4 separate regions of the Homo sapiens genome follow, and regions 2, 3 and 4 are each linked to region 1. The links come from fine-mapping of genetic effects on gene expression. A gene starts in region 1. Each other region holds a variant in brackets. All regions are shown on one strand. Distances are between the middles of the regions. Region 1 holds the start of USP46 (ubiquitin specific peptidase 46). Region 2 has its middle 23 kb from the start of DANCR. Region 3 overlaps SCFD2 (sec1 family domain containing 2). Region 4 has its middle 76 kb from the start of LRRC66.

What was found. PIP is the estimated chance that this variant, and not a neighbour inherited with it, causes the effect.
Region 2: its variant is the best candidate, but not a certain one, in a credible set for the expression of USP46 in whole blood (INTERVAL, PIP 0.76).
Region 3: its variant is the best candidate, but not a certain one, in a credible set for the expression of USP46 in whole blood (TOPMed, PIP 0.55).
Region 4: its variant is the best candidate, but not a certain one, in a credible set for the expression of USP46 in monocytes (BLUEPRINT, PIP 0.57).

What each region holds. Positions count from the first base shown.
Region 1 is chr4:52,656,148-52,661,297 of GRCh38, forward strand. It overlaps USP46 (ubiquitin specific peptidase 46), which reads right to left and starts at 3,154. Exons shown (of 9, transcript NM_022832.4): 1 at 2,968-3,154. The coding sequence starts at 3,003. It overlaps USP46-DT (USP46 divergent transcript), which reads left to right and starts at 3,259. Exons shown (of 2, transcript NR_125363.1): 1 at 3,259-3,529; 2 at 4,745-5,150. RefSeq lists silencers at 2,608-3,127, 3,138-3,567.
Region 2 is chr4:52,687,259-52,692,408 of GRCh38, forward strand. No RefSeq gene overlaps it. Among named protein-coding and RNA genes, the nearest start is that of DANCR, 23 kb to the right of the region's middle. The variant A/G (reference allele first, on the strand shown) is at 2,113.
Region 3 is chr4:52,989,162-52,994,311 of GRCh38, forward strand. The region is part of intron 5 of SCFD2 (sec1 family domain containing 2); the gene reads right to left. Among named protein-coding and RNA genes, the nearest start is that of SCFD2-AS1, 64 kb to the left of the region's middle. The variant G/A (reference allele first, on the strand shown) is at 2,528.
Region 4 is chr4:51,941,681-51,946,830 of GRCh38, forward strand. No RefSeq gene overlaps it. Among named protein-coding and RNA genes, the nearest start is that of LRRC66, 76 kb to the right of the region's middle. The variant A/T (reference allele first, on the strand shown) is at 2,921.

The DNA of each region.
Region 1 (5,150 bases):
AAACGATGTGCTTAAGAAAAAAATGCAATCACCATTTGCTCTTACTACAACTACTCAAACCAGCTGGGACCAAAGTTAGGAGCGGGAAGGGTCAGTAAGAGGCCCACAGAGGAGCTAAGCAGTGAGAAGGGACCTGTAAGACACCTACCTGAAAACAATTCATTATTGAGCAAAGAATCTAAAGAGAGGTCCAGTTAATATTTACGTCTGATCCAGTGAAAAGACAGCAGTTTCCTCATACCCAGCCTTCTCCTCTGGGAAGGAAGACTGGGAGGGACAGTGGGGGCGGTGGGTGGGGGATTGACCTGAGCAGGGGGCGGGGTTAAGGATTCCCACTCCAGCCTTCCTATACATGGGAGGTGTTTATATTAGTGGTTGCTTCCACCAGGTCTGAAATGGCATGATCTCCACTGTCCCTTAAACACCTGGTAGATGACATAACAATGAGAAAGATGATGTTGACAATGACACTCACTGAGTTCTAGCCATGTACCAGGCCCTGTGCCCGAGTAATACAACAATATTAACATCACCTTTTGGTAGATAAGGAAAGTCTAAGACCGGACAACTTGTTCAAGGACACAAAGCCAACATGTGTTAGAACCAGGACCTGCCGGGTATGGTGGCTCACGGCAGTAATTTGGCGCTTCGGGAGGCTGAGGTGGGAGGACCACTTGAGCCCAGGTATTAGGGACCAGCCTGGGCAACATAGGGAGACCCAGTCTCTATGGAAAATTTAAAAATTAGCCAGGCATGGTGGCACGTGCCTGTAGTCCCAGCTACTCAGAAGGCAGAGGTGGGAGAATCACTTGAGCCTGGGAAGTGGAGGCTGCAGTGAGCCACCATGTTCATGCCACTGCACTCCAGCCTGGGTGACAGTGTGAGACCTTGTCAAAAAAAAAAAAAAAAAAAAAAAGAACCAGGACCTGAACCCAGGAAGTCTGACATTAGAACCCAAACTCTGTCACTCTCTAGACATGGCGTCTAAATACAACATCAGACTCCTTACTTAATGAATTACTGGTTCCTCACTTCATCTGGGTGATGGTCCTAAATTTGGTACCTTTTTAGGTCTCCACCTGAGATGTCAACTCTCAGGGCAGTATTGGCCTGCTCCTCTCAGGTCCTCCCCACACCCTGTCTCCCTGACTGAGTTTCACTGAAACACGTTGTGACATTCAGCCCAGGTGTGCCAGAAAGCCCCCGCAGCACTGAGGGTGGGTGGGGGGACGCGTGGGGGGAGGTTGGGGGCTGGCTTCCTCTAGGGGCATGCTAGCTCTCAAGTTTCCAGCCTGCTTCTACACAGAGAGGTGTAACCACACACAAGCAGGACAAGAACACCACCAAGGGCTGGGTCGGAGCCTCACTACCCTGTAGTATCCTTAGGCCTGCGGCCACACCAACAGACATAAAAGAGTATTCAAGCTGCTCCCGATTCACAGTTCCCTCAGGAACTGGTCGTAGGAGAGAAACTGAGAAGGCATCACCTCTTCACAAGCAGCCCCTCCACAGGAATAAGAGGAAATCTGACTCCTCGCAGAGAAAGGAAAAAAAGAGAAAACAGAAAGGCTCTAGGATCCACTCCCCGTATGGAACTCGCCCGGCACCAACCAGTACCTGTGCAGCTATCACTCTGGGAGGCCCCAGCATTTGCTTTGCTGGCCGTGACAGTGGCACGTCCCATTGTGCTGAAAGCTGAAGCCAGCGGGTCTCAATTCCACCCCTGAGCTAACACAAGGCTTCTTAATGCTCCTTTGCCATGTGTTGATCTTGCAACAGAATGTGGGACAGAAGATTTAAAAAGCTATGTGATGGGGGAAGGGCAGCCAGATCACCTTACACCAGGGCTTCTCCATCAAGCTTCCTTGGATTCCCTTTAGGGGCCAGTATTACTAGCTTCAAGGGAGGTTTTCCTCAAACTGGCACTGTAAGAGCACGTGTTGCCTCCGGGGACCCGCTTGGGAGGGGGCTAGAGGGGAGGCGGGGTGCAGTCTAAAGAATGTAGGCAAAACACACATCATCTCACCCTGCAAGGGACAGCAATGCCTTACTCCAATCTGAGCTCCCCAAAGGCTCTGACAAGTGGAGGCGCCAGCAGGGTCCAGCCTGGGGACCCAAGGGCTGGAGGTTCTTCCTACAGAAAAAGGGAAAGCAATGGGGGAAACCCAAATTAAAGTGACCACCGCATCATGGGCTCGGACTGCATCAGAACCCAGTGATGTCCCTGGCTGTATCCATGCCCGCCAGCCTCCCCTAGGTCTACAGCGGATCAGGCAGGATAACCCTGGAGACCTCCTCCAAGCCCACAGCCCGCCCCACCCTTAGGGCCTGCAAATATTACCGCCACAGAGCCTTGTCCCTTTTTCACAGATGGGGAAACTGAGGCATGCGGAGCAAATTACGGTGCTTTTTCAAACCAGGTTGAAGTTCACTTCTCCAGCCACAATTTTGCACTTTTTTTACAGCTTTATTACATTTCCGATTTCTCCAGATACACAATTGCTATTGCAAAGTGAATTTTAAACACCTCGGAAGGACTGAACTCAAAATGAGATGAGGGCAGTCTGGACGTCCAATAAGGCTGTCTTGACCGCAAGAAGAGGATGGGTGCCCCCCACCTCCAGCTTATCCCCCACCCCCTCCCCGGGGACGTTCAGGTTCGGTCGCTTCCCTTCCCTCAAGCCGCTTCCACCGCAACCCGAGGGCGGGGGGCGCAGCAGCGCGGCCCCGGGATCGCCGGGCGGGTTCCGAGGTCCCGGGGCTGAGACGGGCGCCGGGGGCTCGGGGACCCTCCCCGGCCGCTGAGGTGGCTGCGGCCGCGCGCCCAGCTCGGGGGCCGGGAACTTCTGGCGGCGCGGACCCCGCCGCCCCCGCCGCCCCAGCCACCGGGCGTGTGTGCAGCTCGGGCTTCCCTTTCTTTGCCTCGCCGCGAGTCGGGCGCGACCCCGAGGCGGCTCGGCCACTCACCATATTACAGATGGAGGCGATGTTTCGGACAGTCATTAGTCTAAAGGTTGCAGCGATCCCTCACCGCCATCTTTACAAGGGGAAACCGGGACTGCCCATGGTGGCGCGCTGGCGGGGAGGCCGGGCGGCAGCGCGGCGGCCTGGGGTCCGGCTTTCAGTTTGGCTGGGAGAGGGAGGCCGGGAGGAGGAGGCGGCGGCGCGGGGAGGGCGGGGAGGGAGCGCGGAGGGGCGGGGAGTGGCGGAGCGAGGGAGCCTGGGCCGCGGCCGGCGGCGCGGGGAGGAGGGGCGGCCCGGGCGCGCCGCGTGAGTCCGAGCCGGCCGCTCAGAGCGCTCCAGGCTGGGTTCCCGGGCCCCGCCGCGCCGCCTCCTTCCCAGCTCGCCCGCCCAGGCCTGGCCTCCTGCTTTTCCATTTGATTCCCTGCCTCTTTCTATTCGGACTGGAATGCCGGGCCAGGCTCCGGGGCGCGCCGCTGCGGCAGCCGCACCTCGCAGGTCCCCCGGCCGACCCCGACGCGGAAGCGGCGGCCCTCCTCGCCGTCGGGGAGCCAGGGAGCCGGGGACGGTACGGTGCGCGGGGTGGGGAAGCGGGCGGCCCAGGCCGGGGCGAACCCGGGGCCGCCTTCCGTCCTCGCTTTTTCCTCGTCGCCTTCCTCCTGGCGGGCCTCGGCAGCCCCCGGTGTTTATTTTTTGGCGAGGGGTAGGGGTGGCGACGTCCAACTTTTAGTTCCTCCCGAGGGTTCCAACCAGATGGCACCGGCGGGGACCCAAGAAGTAAAATGGGGCGAGGACACCGGAGCGGTCAGAGAGCCCTCGCCAGCTGCGGGCCGGGCGCCCGAGAAAGGGCGCCGGGAAGGGGGAGGAATCCGGGTCTGGGCGGAGGCCAGCAGCGGCGCGCTCGGGCGGCTTGTGACATTAGCGGGTCCAAAGGAGACGTCCCGGTTCCGCGCAAGCACTAGGGACTGTCCAAGGAGTGGAAAGAACGAAAACAAAACTTTTCCATATCTTCAAGGCAGGCATACCCCTCTCGGGTGCACCCAGCCTCTAGTTGTTGAGATGGGCGCTGTATGGGATCATGCACATTTCCCGCATTAAAGGTCGTGGCTGCGGGCTCAGAGCGCGAGTCTGTGCACCACTTAGCAGATAGGTCCACGCGAATTGAAGGGGCCCGTTTCTGAATGTGTGGAACAGTTACACATACAAGGTTGCAATTCGATGCTTTCAAAGGAGAAATTGTACAAGTGAGATGCGTGATAAATTCTTAGATCAGTGTATTTAATGACAAATTGAATCAGAAGAAAAATTAGTTGAAGATAGCTTTTATCTAACCAAGAGTAAAGATTTGAGAGCCGTTGATTGCTAATATCCCTAGAATCTGGGGAGGAAACAGTAAGACAGACTTGTTGACTGAAGGTTTTGGGAGTCATGTCACTGTGTTTTCCAGTGGACATGAGAAATAATATTCCTGCTTAAGTCTTTCAACCTAAATATTATTTCCAAATACATCCTGATGATAATTTCTTCCATTGTAAGTCATGACTGATTTTCTTCTCTCTCTCTCTGTTTTTTAAGAGACAGGTTCTCGCTATGTTGCCCAGCCTGAGGCTGGGCAGCCCCGAGTCATCCCAAACTCCTGGGCTCCAGCAATCATCCCACCTTGGCCTCCCAAAGCGCTGGGACAACAGGCGTGAACCACTGCACCCAATGTTTACATTCCTGATCTCCTTTAATCGCCACCATAACTATCAGCTGGTACATGCTATTATCTCCTTTTTTGCAGATCAGTCACATAAGGCTTAGAGGATCAAGGATCCTGCCCAGATGACTTACCGAAATGTTACAGATTAAGTTGGTGTGGTAACCTGGGCTGAGCACTCTGGGAGAGGAAGAGAAGAGAGAAGACAGGAAACAACTGAACTATGACCAATCCCAGCACGGAGGCCCAGAAAACTTTAAGATTTGAGTATTAATGTCTCAAGGTCAGGAGCAACCTCAAGGCTAAAACTCAGATCTCAGGACTCAATTTCACAGAAGTTCCACTATAAAGGCAATAATCTAAAGCTTTAAATGATATGAAAATTTTGTAATAAGAGTTCAGTATTTCTGCCAACATTGGCGCATGGATTGCAAAGTTCACAGGATTGAAAACACCATCGACATAATGGAAATTGAACAGCATCTGATTA
Region 2 (5,150 bases), 31 kb after region 1:
TATAAAATAGAATTATTACGTTCCAAAAAATGTTCAAAACCTGATCATTTTAAATCATAAATTGCAATTCATATTGTCACAGAGGAAACTAAATTGGTAAATAATTAAAAATTATAAGAGCTGTTAAAAGTAGTATCTGATCTCACAGGGCCAGGTGGCTCATTCCTATAATCGCAGCACTGTAGGAGCTCAAGGCAGGTAGATCACTTGAGGCCAGGAGTTAGAGACCAGCCTGGCCAACATGGCAAAACCCCATCTTTACTAAAAACGCAAAAATTAGCCAGGCGTGGTGATGCATGCCTGTAATCCCAGCTACTTGGACGATTGAGGCATGAGAATCACTTGAACCTAGGAAGTCGAGGTTGCAATGAGCTGAGATCATGCCACTGCACTCCAGTCTGGGTGACAAAGTGAGACCCTGTCTCAAAAAAAAAAAAAATAGTAATATCTGATCTCTTTGGTTTTGGGGAACCAAGGATTACTTTGTGCTGTGAGAGAGAACTTGACTTCAGTGTATGCAGTGTCTGACAAGCCACTGCAAAAGCTGCAGTTTGGGGAGTGGCTGACAATGGTCTCAGTGAATGCTTGTTAATGCAGAGTGCTACTTATTTCTTTGTGCACTTAGGTAAAAAGGCGGGTTTGAACATTTGGAGGTTGTGGGGACACTTGCCACCAAGAGATAAGACTCCTGACAGGGAAGGGCTGATCACAGAAGGGGCTGATCGGCATCATTTCACCCGCCAGCAACAAAGGAATGTCTTCATGGTGAAAGGCACTGTGGAAGCATTGCATGGCCCAGTCCCAGGGGATTTCCTTTTATTAGGGGACCTGGGATTGTAAAAGTGGGATCCTTGATTTTTTGTTTGTTTGTTTTTGAGACAGAGTCTCACTCTGTCACCCAGGCTGGAGTGCAGTGGCACGATCTTGGCTCACTGCAACCTCCGTCTCCCGGGTTCAAGTGATTCTCCTGCCTCAGCCTCCCGAGTAGCTGGGACTACAGGTGTGTACCACCACACCCAGTTATTTTTTTGTATTTTTAGTACAGATGGGCTTCACCATGTTAGCCAGGAAGGTCTCGATCTCCTGACCTTGTGATCCGCCTACCTCGGCCTCCCAAAGTGTTGGGATTACAGGTGTGAGCCACCACACCCGGCCAGAGATCCTTGATTTTTAAAGATCTAGATGTGCTGCATTCCAGCTGTGCCTGCTTTTCATATATTTAAATATTAGGCCCTGGTAACTGCAAAGGCTTTCTTTGTTTGCCTTGTTCATTAAAGGGCTCCACCTTGAAGTCAGTAATCTAATCAAGAGACAAATTAAGTGGAAAAGAACACCTATCTAACCAGATTGGTATCCAAAATACAATGTTCTTAGCTGGCTATACTGAAACTTTTTGTAAAATAAATCTACATCTATAAAGGAAACCTCCATTTGTAAGGACATCTCCCTCACTGTACCTAAACCACTAGAAACTTTTGGGAAAACATTAGTTTAAAGTTTACATGACAAATCTTGCCTTTATTTAAGATACTTAACATAGGCCTTTACCTATGCCCTTCTTTGTCTCAGCAAATAATGGTGTTTACATCTAACTTCTGTGTCTTTAAATAAAAATTCTCACATAAGAGTCATGTCTTTAAAAGTACAAATTTAGGGTTGCCTAGCTAATATTGTTTAGAGCTTGATTGTTTATAGATGGTAGAAAAACCATTTGATAATTGGCCTAAAAAGGATGTTATGAAGCTGTAAAATATACTTCTGTGTGTATGTCTATATGTTTATAAGTGTCATGTATGTGATATTTCCTTACAAAGATATATGAAAAAGCTCTAATCATTGGCTTTTAAAAAGTAAACACTTAAATATTTAATCAGAAAAATAGAAACAAACTCAAATGCCTTTAGTTTACATGACTTGGGTAAATGCTTAGTAAATAAGACTAGTTTAATATTGTTGGTTTAATGAAAACAGCTGTGTCTTCTAATCAACAAACTATGCATGTATTTAACTTTAGGGTTCCTGCTTAGGTGGCAAATACCTAACATTCACAAGCTGTAAAAATGATTAACTAATAAATAGCTTGAGATAATAGCTAGCTTTGTTTAATGAACT[A/G]TTCAAGCATAATTGTTAAAGATGAATAAATTAGGCCAGTTGTGGTGGCTCATGCCTGTAATCCCAGCACTTTGGAAAGCCAAGGCAGGTGGATCACCTGAGATCAGGAGTTTGAGACCAGCCTGGGCAACATGGTGAAACTCCATCTCTACTGAAAATACAAAATTAGCCAGGCATGGTGGCACATGCCTGTAATCACAGCTACTTGGGAGGTTGAGGCAAGAGAATCACTTGAACCCGGGAGGTGGAGGTTGCAGTGAGCTGAGATTGTGCCACTGTACTCCAGCCTGGGCAATAGAGTGAGACTCCGTCTCAAAAAAAAAAAAAGAATGAATAAATTACATGAATGTAAATAGGATACAAGTTTATAAATGAACTCCATAGTTCCAAAAATCTTTTTAGTAACTTGATCTTAAAGTCATGTTGTGTTAAATTAAGTAATAGATAATCATAAAATGTCTGAGTCATTTATATGATATAGAAAAGCTATATCTAAATCTGTTAATTAGAAAATTGAGGAAACATCTTTCTAAAAATTATGAAATGGTTTAAATTTACAAATACAGGCATAAACTATACACCAAAAATAAAATTCTAAGACCCCACCAACCAGCTGGACCCCTGCTTGGCTAAGGGCATTCTAAAGTAAACCTGATTGAATAGGAGAATACATAAGGGGAAAAATACATAAGGGTCCAGGTGTGGTGGCTCATGCCTGTAATCCCAGCACTTTGGGAGGCTGAGGCGGGCAGATCACCTGGGGTCAGGAGTTTGAGACTAGCCTGGCCAACATGAAACCCCATCTCTACTAAAAATACAAAAATTAGCTGGGCGTAGTGGTGGGTACCTGTAATTCCAACTACTCAGGAGGCTGAGGCACTATAATCGCTTGAACCCAGAAGGCGGAGGTTACAGTAAGCCGAGATCACGCCACTGCACTGCAGCCTGGGTGACAGAGCGAGATTCAGTCTCAAAAACAAACAAAAAAAAACAAAAAAAGGGGGAGAAATATTAAGGAGAAAGAGAGAGAGAGAAAAGAAAAGAAAAGAAAAGAAAAAAAAGAAAGGAGAAAAGAAAAGGCAATTTGGAATTCAGGCACAGCTGACCAGTATTAACATAAAAACAGAGACTTTAAGACTGACAAAACAGACTTTTTGTGGTAACAAGACATCAGCATGACAGATAGCAGGCCCTGAAAGAAATTGAAGTATTTTACCCCAAAATATATTTCTTTTTTCTTTTCTTTTCTCTTTTTTTTTTTTTTTTTTTTTTGAGACAGGGTCTCACTCTGTCACCCAGGTTGGAGTGCAGTGGCGCAATCTTGGCTTACTACAACCTCCACCTTCCAGGCTCAAGCAATCTTCCCACCCCAGCCTCTCTAGTAGCTGGGGCCAAAAGACATGCTCCACCACACCTGAATAATTTTTTTTTTTTTTTTTTTTTTTGTAGAGATGGGTTTTGCCATGTTGCCCAGGCTGGTCTTGAACTCCTGAGCTCAGGAGATCCACCTGCCTCAACCTCCCAAAGTAATGGGAGTACAGGCATGAGCCACCATACATGACCTCCCAAAATATATTTTTTTGACATATTTTGAAATGGCACTGCAAAGCTATCTCTTGTACAAAAAATATATCTTCTGTCAAGAACCCCTTTCCCTTTCCAGGTCTTCTTTCTGATCCAGGAGTGAATTAACAGAGTTTGGCACCTTAAAGAAACACAATCTATTTATTTTAAAGCCTGCTACCTGGAGACTTCATCTGCATTATAAGATCCTTGGTCTGCACGACCCCTTACCTTAGCCCAGATACTCTCTTCTACTGATTTCAGGTCTTTCATTAAGATCTCCCAACCAACTGCCAATCAGAAAACCTTTGAATCCACCTATGACCAGGAAACCTCTTCTTTGAGTTGCATGAGGGGGAACTTTATGTGTTCAAAATGACAATAGGAAAAAAAAGTAAATTTTTGTCCTAAGGTAAGATGCCAATATAAAAAGGAAATACAGGACAAAACTGGCGCCTTAAGCAAATTTTAGAAAATCTGTGGAAAACTCATCTTGTGAAAGGAATTTTGTTTGTGATCAAGTTGGCTAAAATTAGAATTATTTTTCTAAAAATTGAGCCATAGGAGCACTAATGGGCATAGAGACTGCCAGGCCCGTACCCACCAGTGCCCTGTCCCCATGACAACATTGCTGCCAGTGCAAAACTGTGCGGGAGACCACTAGACCCATCCCCACCCCCAGCAGCAGCTGCCGGCTGCACAGAGGGTACACAGAGTTTCATGCCTACCAGCACCCACCCTTGTGCTAACACCAGCCCTGGAGCAAACACATGCACAGACACTGGGGGGACCCCTGGCTGGCCACACTATCCTGCCACCATCACCACTGTGAACACCCACACAGAAGTTGGCACCCCTGAACCTACCAGCACCTCACTGCAGAATGAGTGTGCACCCTGCCATGCTACCCATACTGCTGGCACATGCAAACAAGGATGGATCCCATTGCCACTTCCCTACAAAGTTCTGTGGCTGGCACCACCCATCAGACTCTTGTGAACACTGCTTCAGGAACAACTTGGCCCTTCCAGCATGGCAGGTTCCTAACTTCCAGGGACCACAGAACAAAGCCAGAGGTCTGAAATCAACACCCCAGAGTTAGAACACACAGTCCAGGAGTTCTGAGCTGAGCCTTGGTTCCCTAAAATCCTCCAGAAACAAACCCAGTCAATTGAACCCACCTTATACCACAATTAAATCTCCCAGAACATAAAATGGAATTAAAGAAAAAAAAACTTATCTAAAAGTCAGCAACTACAAAGATTGAAGGAATATTAGCCCACAAAGATGAGAAAGAACCAGTGCAAAAACTCTGGCAACTCAAAAAGCCATAGTGTCTTGTTACCTCCAAAGGATTGGACTAGTTCCCAAACAGGCTGAGATGGCCAAAATTACAGAAATAGAATTCAGATTCTGGACAGAAATGAAGATTATTGAGATACAGGAGAAGGTTGAAATCTAATCAAAGGAATCTA
Region 3 (5,150 bases), 330 kb after region 1:
AACAGAGTGGGCAATCATTGTACAAATGGAACAAGAAACTTGGATGATGTCCCTAGTTCTGTGACTAATTTGTGGATTATCTTATTAGTCCTTTAACCATGTTTGGTGAAATAAAAACCATGCTATGCCCATCAATTTCTCCTAAAGGGATGTTATAAGACCAACATGCCACTATGGATAAAGCATCCTAAGGAAAGATGATGGAAATAGTCTTATTAACAGAATAACTTCAGTTTTGTCTCTATTCATACTATAATTTCCTTTAATATTATATGATAGTGTTTCAGTATTTGAAATGTGATAGCTTAGGAGTTCAACTTATGATAAAGACACTCTGTAATTTTCCCTAGTGTGCCCATTTTAAATACAATGCAAAGAAGGAATAGAATGCCTGTGGAATGCTTATGGTAGTGACTTCAAAGGAGTTCAGAAATTTCTATCAGACAAAACCTTTGCTCCCTTGTTTACATAAAATCGACATCATCTAATAATGTATGTTTCCCACTGTGGCATTGGATTCTATTCACCTTGATTCCTGTTTTCATTTCTTTCATTCTACTTTCTTCCCAATCTGCCTGATGCATTTTGTTTTCTCAAAATTCTGCCTTTTCTGTTGGTTGCTAATGAGTTTTCTCTGTTCCCTTCTTTCCTTTTACCTACTGATGCCCCCTCCCACCATCTCTGCTTACATGTTTCTAGTCCTGCTGTTCACCTCTCTTTATTTTTCCTTCTTTGACTCTCTTCCTCTGTCTACACTCTGCACATTCTGGCATCATCTCTCTCCTTCCCTCCCTCCCATCCTTCATGCCTCCTTCAACTTTTCCTCATTACTGCTGCATGTATAAATAGGCTCGAGGCAATCTATCATTTACGCACATGCTCTCAGATAATCTCTTGCTGCATCTCACAGACAGTAGTTAACTGCAGCAGCAAATGTAACATGCTCATTTACTATCTTTTTAGAAGGAGTGCTGAAGCAGGGGTCAAAAATGAAAGAGACATCTCACATGATTCAGTGGCTTCTGAAGAATGAGCTGGTGATAAGAAGAAAGCTGTTTTCTTACATTTAATATCGACTGAAAACATGTTTCTAATGAGACAAAGCTGCTGCAAAATATATAAGGCTCTGAATGATATTAATCTGTCTTCCCAATGTGTTCTCATTAGTCTCATTCCACTATTACAATTAATAATGTTATTGCTAGAAATTTACAATGTGTCAGCCTTTCAGTGTTACTTTTTAAGTATTTAAAGTGAATTATCTAATTCAGGGATCTTCCTATAGCTGTACCATTTGTGTACTACATTAAGGAGACCAGCCAATGGGGAGAGCTGAGGCTGCTTGCAAAGCCATAGGTGGAGGCTAGCATTATTCCCATTTTTCAGATGAAGAAAATGACGTGCAGATGGTTTAAGCAACTTTCCCAAGTGGAAGAATCATGTAAAGTACAAAGTTAAAACTGGGTATTTTGAGACTTGGAATGTCAAATGTGTAATATACTGTCCAGTATAGTATTCTCTTACTAAAGCATACACAAATTGAAGGCAGGTACTGTGTCTATCTTGTTCATCATGGTAGCTACTAGTTTTAGAATAAAGAAAAAAAAATAAGGGTAAAAGTCATGAAACATTTAAAGGATTGGTCTTTCCAACAAAAGAGAAATGCAGTAATGATAAAGAAACTGTCCACTCTTGTAACTCTTACGCATCAGTTTTATCTTCACTTCCATCAGACCCTGGGCTGAGGTGGTGGTGGAGAATGTGGGAAAGTCTGGACTGACCCACCTGGATGTGGAACACACCTGGCTGTAGGTGGACAATGTGAGGCAGGCCCTTCAGTGTGCAAAATCAGATTCTGTGATGAGGAGTAGAGAGTAGGACAGGGAGAGGGAAGGAAGTCCACTAAGAGGTACTAGAGGGTATTCTGCAGGCAGAAAGGGGGCTGAGTAGATCTGGCCTGCAGGGAAGCTTGTTTTCAGGTTAATATGGTGAGACATGGGAGATAGATGGTTGGTGTTCAGTATGCTTGGGGAGAGGTAATAACAATATTGACATGCACTAAATATGATACCCTGTCTGAAGCACTTTGTGTTACCTCATTTCATCCTCACCAAAATCTCTGAGATTGGTATTATTATTCCTCCTATCTAAAGAAAATTGAAGTAAGTTGTCAAAGTTTTAATGACAGTAAAAAGGTACACTGTAGAGTCACTCCCAGATATGTTGATTTCGAAGTCCACATTTTTGCCCTTCCACCTTAGGAGGAGGGATTGGGGTTCAGGGGAGAACCCCTACTACCAACTGGGCTAGGGGGAGGATGGAAGGTTCCCAAATCTGGAGGATCAAGGAAATTACACAGGTTTTGAGGATGGGCTTGGCCTTGGGGGACAAGACTGGCACCCAGAGACAAAGTTCACTGAAGGCTCAGGGAGAGGAGTTGGATTAAGGGCCTGGTTACTAATGCACCACATCTGAGCAGAACATCCTCAAGATGACTTGACATTGCTCCACCCAACTCCCAAATGAG[G/A]GAAGTGGTTTGAATTCTCTCTGGCTAAGAAGAGTATTGGTTCTGAAACTGGGGGTGTAGCTGTAGCTGTAGCTGTAGCTGTGGAAATGGGAGGCCTGTGTAGTAAGGAAGCCATTCTGCCATTACATTTTGAGTTCAGATTGTTTTATCTGCCAGTATCTGTCCCAAAGTGATCTTGAATCCTTTTGGAATGAGGTAGGGTAAAAACTTAAAAAATGTACATGTCTTTATAGTGGATACATTTCCCCAAGCAGCCTTAAAATGTGTGCGTATATTTTTCTTAAGTATGTTTTTGCCTCTCCCTCTCCCTCTCCCCACAGTCTCCCTCTCCCCACGGTCTCCCTCTCCCCGCAGTCTCCCTCTCCCCACGGTCTCCCTCTGATGCCGAGCCGAAGCTGGACTGTACTGCCACCATCTCAGCTCACTGCAACCTCCCTGCCTGATTCTCCTGCCTCAGCCTGTCGAGTGCCTGGGATTGCAGGAGCGCGCCACCACGCCTGACTGGTTTTCCTATTTTTTTGGTGGAGACGGGGTTTCGCTGTGTTGGCCGGGCTGGTCTCCAGCTCCTAACCGCGAGTGATCTGCCAGCCTCGGCCTCCTGAGGTGCCGGGATTGCAGACGGAGTCTCCCTCACTCAGTGCTCAATGTTGCCCAGGCTGGAGTGCAGTGGCGTGATCTCGGCTCGCTACAACCTCCACCTCCCAGCCGCCTGCCTTGGCCTCCCAAAGTGCCGAGATTGCAGCCTCTGCCGGGCCGCCACCCCGTCTGGGAAGTGAGGAGCGTCTCTGCATGGCCGCCCATCGTCTGGGATGTGAGGAGCCCCTCTGCCCGGCCACCCAGTCTGGCAAGTGAGGAGCACCTCTTCCCGGCCGCCATCCCCTCTAGGAAGTGAGGAGCGTCTCTGCCCGGCCGCCCATCGTCTGAGATGTGGGGAGTGCCTCTGCCCCGCCACCCCTTCTGGGATGTGAGGAGTGCCTCTGCCTGGCCGCCACCCCATCTGGGAGGTGAGGAGCGTCTCCGCCCGGCCGCCCCGTCTGAGAAGTGAAGAGCCCCTCCGCCCGGCAGCCGCCCCATGTGTGAAGTGAAGCCCCCCCTCCGCCAGGCAGCCGCCCCGTCCGGGAGGGAGGTGGGGGATGCCTCTGCCCGGCTGCCCCGTCTGGGAAGTGAGGAGCCCCTCTGCCCAGCAGTCACCCCGTCTGGGAGGTGTACCCAACAGCTCATTGAGAACGGGCCATGATGACGATGGCGGTTTTGTCGAATAGAAAAGGGGGAAATGTGGGGAAAAGATAGAGAAATCAGATTGTTGCTGTGTCTGTGCAGAGGGAAGTAGACGTAGGAGACTCCATTTTGTTCTGTACTAAGAAAAATTCTTCTGCCTTGGGATGCTGTTAATCTATAACCTTACCCCCAACCCCCTGCTCTCTGAAACATGTGCTGTGTCCACTCAGGGTTAAATGGATTAAGGGCGGTGCAAGATGTGCTTTGTTAAACAGATGCTTGAAGGCAGCATGCTCGTTAAGAGTCATCACCACTCCCTAATCTCAAGTACCCAGGGACACAAACACTGCGGAAGGCCGCAGGGTCCTCTGCCTAGGAAAACCAGAGACCCTTGTTCACTTGTTTATCTGCTGACCTTCCCTCCACTATTGTCCTGTGACCCTGCCAAATCCCCCTCTCGGAGAAACACCCAAGAATGATCAATAAATACTAAAAAAATAAAAAAATAAAAAAAGTATGTTTTTTAATTTAATTGAATATTTTATTTATGTGCGGCAACTAAATCATCAAAGTACTTTCAGTGGCTCACTAGGATGCATATCTAGAAGCAGCTCCGCATTTTAGTCTCAAGTGTGTTTGCAGGTTCCATGTAATTTTTTACATACATTGTTTATCTCTTCAAAATGACTGCTTCAAGAAAACTGAAGAAACGAAGACAGTGGCAAGGGGCTGGCATACAGGGTGAAATAAAAATGCCACTCCACTCATACCAGGCAAAAGTTGGCAATATTGCTGGATTTCCACTCCAAGTTTCCAAACTCCAATGATAAAAATGGTCATAAAATTAATTGGAATCATTGTAACTCTCTAGCACAGGTACTTTTCTTTTGACATGAAAATTATTTATAGACTGTTCTGTACTTAGTAATAAATAGCCTCAGAAAAAGGCTCTGGAGACAGAGGGAAGTGTGGGAGATATTGGGGTTGTCAAAACGATGACTGGGGGCGTGTACTGCAGGTCTTGGCAGTGCCACGGCAAGGGAAACAAAGCGCAGACCGCATTGCTTGGGCCCCAGCCCTCCTCCCAGCCCTGAGGCTGGTCCCGCTCTAGACAGCTGGGTTTGGAGCTGCTCCTGTTCAGGGGTAACTCCCCACAGGCCAGGAGTGGGGCTGTTCCTGGGGCATCCTCAGGCCAGCAGTTCCTCTGAATGGTTGGGGGAGAAATGAAAAGACACCTGGAGGGCTGTGGATCACAGCCAGGTGTTCCTGAGGGAGCTCAAGCATTCTGGGCAAGTCCTGGATGAACTCTGACCAAACCTAGAGGATTCCCTGTTTTTCTTAACACTGCCTTACTACTTCAGTTTTCTTCAAAACTCTAACATTTCACTAGCCTCTTATACTGCCT
Region 4 (5,150 bases), 710 kb before region 1:
TGACTTGCCCCAGGTGATGCTATTGACCTTACCTCCTAACGGCTTGTTGTGTGTCCTATGGGAGCTATTGCTGCTGAAGCCAGAGCTCCGCCATGTTCAAGGTCAGATGCAACATGGTTCGACTTCCCTCAGTGCTGCCTGGAGAGGCTGGGAGCACTGCAGAAAAGTTTTGTGCATCACTTTGTATCTGCATTCTCTTGGCCCCTACTTTAGTTACATTTCCTTTCATTCTGGCTTTCTCAGGATTGACCCCCTGCCCCAATAATACACTGACTTTTAAGTTTTACTGCAGACTCTTTTTCCAGGCAACCCAGCCTCAAGTGGCATGTGTTGAGGTTAGTTAAGGGTTGGCCTGGGGACCTTGTCAAACAGGATCTCCACGATGAGGGTCAGGTGGCTTTAGGGATGGGAGTGGAAGAAAGTGAGAGTCAGACCTCTCGAGTCACAGTGTTTGCGGGAGTCTGGGTGGGGGCAGGTCAGTCAGGGGAGGTCATCAGGTCTTGACAAAGCCAGAACAAGTGACAGCTGCTTTCAGCCAGAGACTGACAATAAGACGAGCAGCCACTGGGCAGTCCAGAGACACCTTCTGCAAAGCCACGTCTGAGAAGCCCTATGCTCCAAAGCCTCAAAAATGAAGTGTGCCCTCATATACTCAGATGCCAACCCCAGGAAAAAGAAATGAAGCAGAAACAGAAGCCAGAGAGGTGAGTCATTCCAGAGAGGCTGCTTTGACCAGTCCTAAAAGAGAGAGTTCAGTGAATTTTTAAGATTAAAATTGGAAATAGAGAGGAAACCATTTAGATTGGAAGAGATAGAAATATTTTTCATTGACGAATCTGTTATTTCTGCTATCCAGGGTGGTGGGAGCCCCAGGAAGACGATCAGTTATAGATGAAAGTAAGAAATTGCATTTACTCTGCAAATCTGTGTGCCTTGTGAGTAATGTTGTGACCCTGCTATAATTCATTGGAGTTGTAGAGGAGAGCCTTTGCTGTTGGCCAAGATTACAGATATAAGGAGCACCCAGAATGGAACTAGATGGGCAGACAGGAGATATGAGCATTGCTGTTACCTAACTTTGTAACTGGGAGTGAATGCTTTCTTTCTCTTTAAACATGGCCATTTGACCAGATCTGTGATTCTAAAGTGGGGGTTGCAAACTGCAAATGCCCACAGGAGCCAGGCAGATAAGGCAAAGGGATGAAGTGGACCAGATGGGAAATGGGTGAACTGGAGCCCTTTTCCCCGCATGTGCACAGGGCAGATGCTGCTTGAGTCCTGCAGGAATAAAGTTTGGTGTTCCCAGATAATAGGTTATGTTTACTAAGGGTTTAATATGCTTTAAACAAATCGATGTTCTCATTTTAAGCTCACAATAACCCTATTCAGGAGGTACTATTATTATCTCTATTTTTCAGATGAGGAAAATAACTGGAGTTCCTTCCAGTCCTGAGGTAGAGAGGATAAATAACTTGATGAAGGTCAGAGAAGTAGAAAGTTGCAGAACTGGGATTAAGACCCAGACAGTCCAGCTGCAGAGCATGCTTGATCATGACGGCACAGTTCTCCTGATTTTTCCTGATTAGTGGGACATTGAGATTTTTTAAAAATTAAAATCTTGCAATTAAAAAATGAAAAGTTAAAAAAACAAAAAACAAAAACTCAGCGAGCTGCAGAAGACCAAAGTGAAAACTGAGCGAGCTTCAGAAGGTCTGTGAGTTGCCAGCTTGTATTTGGCATTCCAAGTCAATGACTCATGATGTATCGTTGGAAAGCAATGATTTTGTAGGGTTGTTTTCCCCAAATATTCATACCAGAGTATAAACTTGTAGATTTTCCTTCAGAGTAGTCAAGTCGGACACCTACACACTGTTTCAGATAATGTTTCTTTGGCCCAAAATATTTTCAAAATTCCACGTTTGGAATTGCCTTCAGAAAGGTTCACAAATCAGTTATATTATCTTGTGGTCATATCTCATTTGGTGAGATATGGTAGAGAGTGTGTGTGCATGGGCATACACACCTGTGCTTATACGCACACACACACAGAGTGGCTGCTCATGTTTTGCTGATGGATACTCAGAGGCATGTAGAGAATTTCACATTTCCAAAACAACAAAGAATTAGTGGAGGTGTCAGAGGTGTTTGAACCAGAGTGACTCCATCTTGAATAGGTGTGATAGGAATCAGCAGGAAGAGTTTTGCAAGGTTCAAGCCACAAAGACCTCACGGATCAAATGAGATTAGGTGAAGAAGCTGGCCAAAACCCACCAAAACTAAGATGGCCCTAAAAGGGACCTCTGTCATCCTCACTGCTCATTAAAAGCTAATTAAAATGTATTAGCATGCTAAAAGACACTCCCATCAGTGCCATGACAGTTTACAAATGCCATGGCAACATCCGGAAGTTACCACATATGGTCCAAAATGGAGAGGAACTCTCAGTTCTGGGAGCCCCCATCCCTTTCTCAGAAAACTCATGAATAATCCACCCTTTGTTTAGCAGATCATCAAGAGATAATCTTATATATAATCAGTCAAGCACCCATGCCGATGCTCTGCCTATGGAGTAGCGATTCCTTTATTTCTTCTTTAATAAACTTGGTTTCACTTTACTCTGTAAATTTGCCCAGAATTCTTTCTTGCGTGAGATCTGAGAACCCTCTCTTGGGGTCTAGATCAGGACCACTTTCCAGTAACAGAAGAGCTAGGAATAAAAATGCAATCCCTGCCTCAGTAAAGCAGTTCGTTACCACTACTCTATATTTCCCTTCCTCTCATTCACAACCTCTCTCCTCCCCTGCCCTCATTCACAGAATATATGATTCAGAATAGGGCTGCAGTATAGTTGGGTTGGGGGAAATTATCATAGACAATGGGAAGGTGTGGGGAAACTCATGTAAGGAGAATTACCTGGAGC[A/T]TGGGGGGGCCAAATAAAATGTTTATTGAGTAAATGAATGATGAGTTAGAGTGAGAACAGCTTGGAGGTTATCTCAGTTCCTGGCTATTATAACAAAACCTTAGACTGGGTGATTTGTAAACAACAGGTATGCATTCCTCACAGGGCTGGAGCTCGAGAAGTCCAATATTAAGGCTGTAGCCAATTTAGTGTCTGGTGATGGCTGCTCTCTGCTTCATAGATCTGGCACCTTCTATGTGTCTTCACATGGCAGATGGGACAAACAGGTTCCCTCAAACCTTTTTTAACAAGGGCACTAATTCCATTCATGAGCCCTCATGACCTAATCCCCAAATCCTCCACCTCTTAATACTATCACACTGGGGATGACGTTTCATGTCAAAGTTCATATGAATTGTTGGGGGGACACAAATATTCAGACCACAGCATTCCACCTCTTCCCCCACTAAATTTATGTCCATTTCACAGGCAAAATAGATTCATGCCATCTCAACAGCCCCCAAAATCTTAACTCTTCCAGGATCAACTCAAAAGTCTAAAGTCCAGAGTCTTAATCAGATGTGGATTGATATGGTTTGGATATGTGTTCCTTCTAAGTCTCATGTTCAATTGTTATCCCTAGTATTAAGAGTTGGGGCCTACTGGGAGGTGTTTGGTTCATGGAGGCAGATCCCTCTTGGTTTGGTGCTGTCCTCGAGATAGTGAGTTCTCATGAGATCTGGTTGTTTAAGTGTGTGGCACCTCCCCCCTCACTCGCTTGCTCCCACTCTGCCATGTGAGATACCTATTCCTGCTTTGCCTTCCACCACAAATAAAAGCTCCTTGAGTCCTTCCCAGAAGCTGGGCAGATGCTTGTGCCATGCTTCTCGTACAGCCTGCAGAAACATGAGCCAATTAAACCTCTTCTTTTATAAATTGCTCAGTCTCAGGTATTTCTTTATAGCAATGCAAAAAATGGCCTAATACAGAAAATTGGTATCAAGAATGTGGAAGTGTTTCTGGAATTGGGTAACAGGCAGAGGTTGGAAGAGTTTGAAAGGCTCAGAAGAGAACAGGAAGATGAGGTAAAGTTTGGAACATCCTAGGGCCTGGTTAAAAGGTTGTGACCAAAATGCTGATAGTGATATGGGCAGTGAAGTCCAGGCTGCTGAGGTCTCAGATGGAAATGAGAAATTTATTGCGAACTGGAGTGAAGGTCATGTGCGTTGTGCATTAGCAAAGAGTTTGTCTGCATTGTGTTTATGACTTAGGGATCTCTGGAAGTTTGAACTTGAGAGTGATAATTTAGACTATCTGGTGGAAGAAATTTCTAAGAGTAAAGCATGCAAGATGTTGCCTGGCTGTTTTCTAACATCCTAGGCTCAGATGCAGGAGCAAATAAATGACTTAAAATTATAACTGATATTTGAAAGGGCAGCAGAGCATAAATATTTGAAAAATTGAAGCCTGGCCATGTAGTAGAAAGAAAAGCCCATTTTAAGGGGAATAATCCAAGCAGGCTGTGAAGCAACCACTTGCTAGAGAGATTTTCGTAACTAAAAAGGGGCAAGGTGCTGATAGCCAAGAAAAGGCCTCAAAGGCATTTCAGAGACCTTTGTGACAGCCCCTCCCATCAAGGCCCAGAGGCCAAGAATGGAAAAATGTTTCCATGGGCCAGGCCCAGGGCCCCTGCTGCCCTACGTGGCCTTAGAACACTGCTCCCTGCATCCCAGCAGCTCCAACCCCAGTCTCAGCTCAAAAAGCTCCAGATATAGCCATAAGCCTTGGTGGCTTCTACATAGGGTTAAGCCTGCAAATGCTCAGAGTGCAAGAATGAAGGAGGCTTGCCAGCCTCTGCTTAGATATCAGAAGATGTATGGAAAAGCCTAGAAGCCCAGGCAGAAGCCTGCCACAGGGACACAGCCCTCACATAGAACCTCTACTAGGGTAGTGCAGAGGAGAAATTCTGGGTTGGAGACTCCACACAAATTCCTCACTGGGGCACTACCTAGTAGTTCTGTGAGATGGGGACCACCATGCTTCAGGCCCAGAATGACAGATCCACTGGCAGTTTGCATCCTGTGACTGGAAAAGCCACAGTCATTCAACTTGAACCCATGAAAGCAGCCACTGGGGCTGACCCCTGTAAAACCACAGGGGAGTGGAGATGCCCAAGGTCTTGGGAGCTCACTCCTTGCACCAGTGTGCCCTGGAGGTGGGACCAGGAGTCAAAAGTGATTACTTTGGAAAC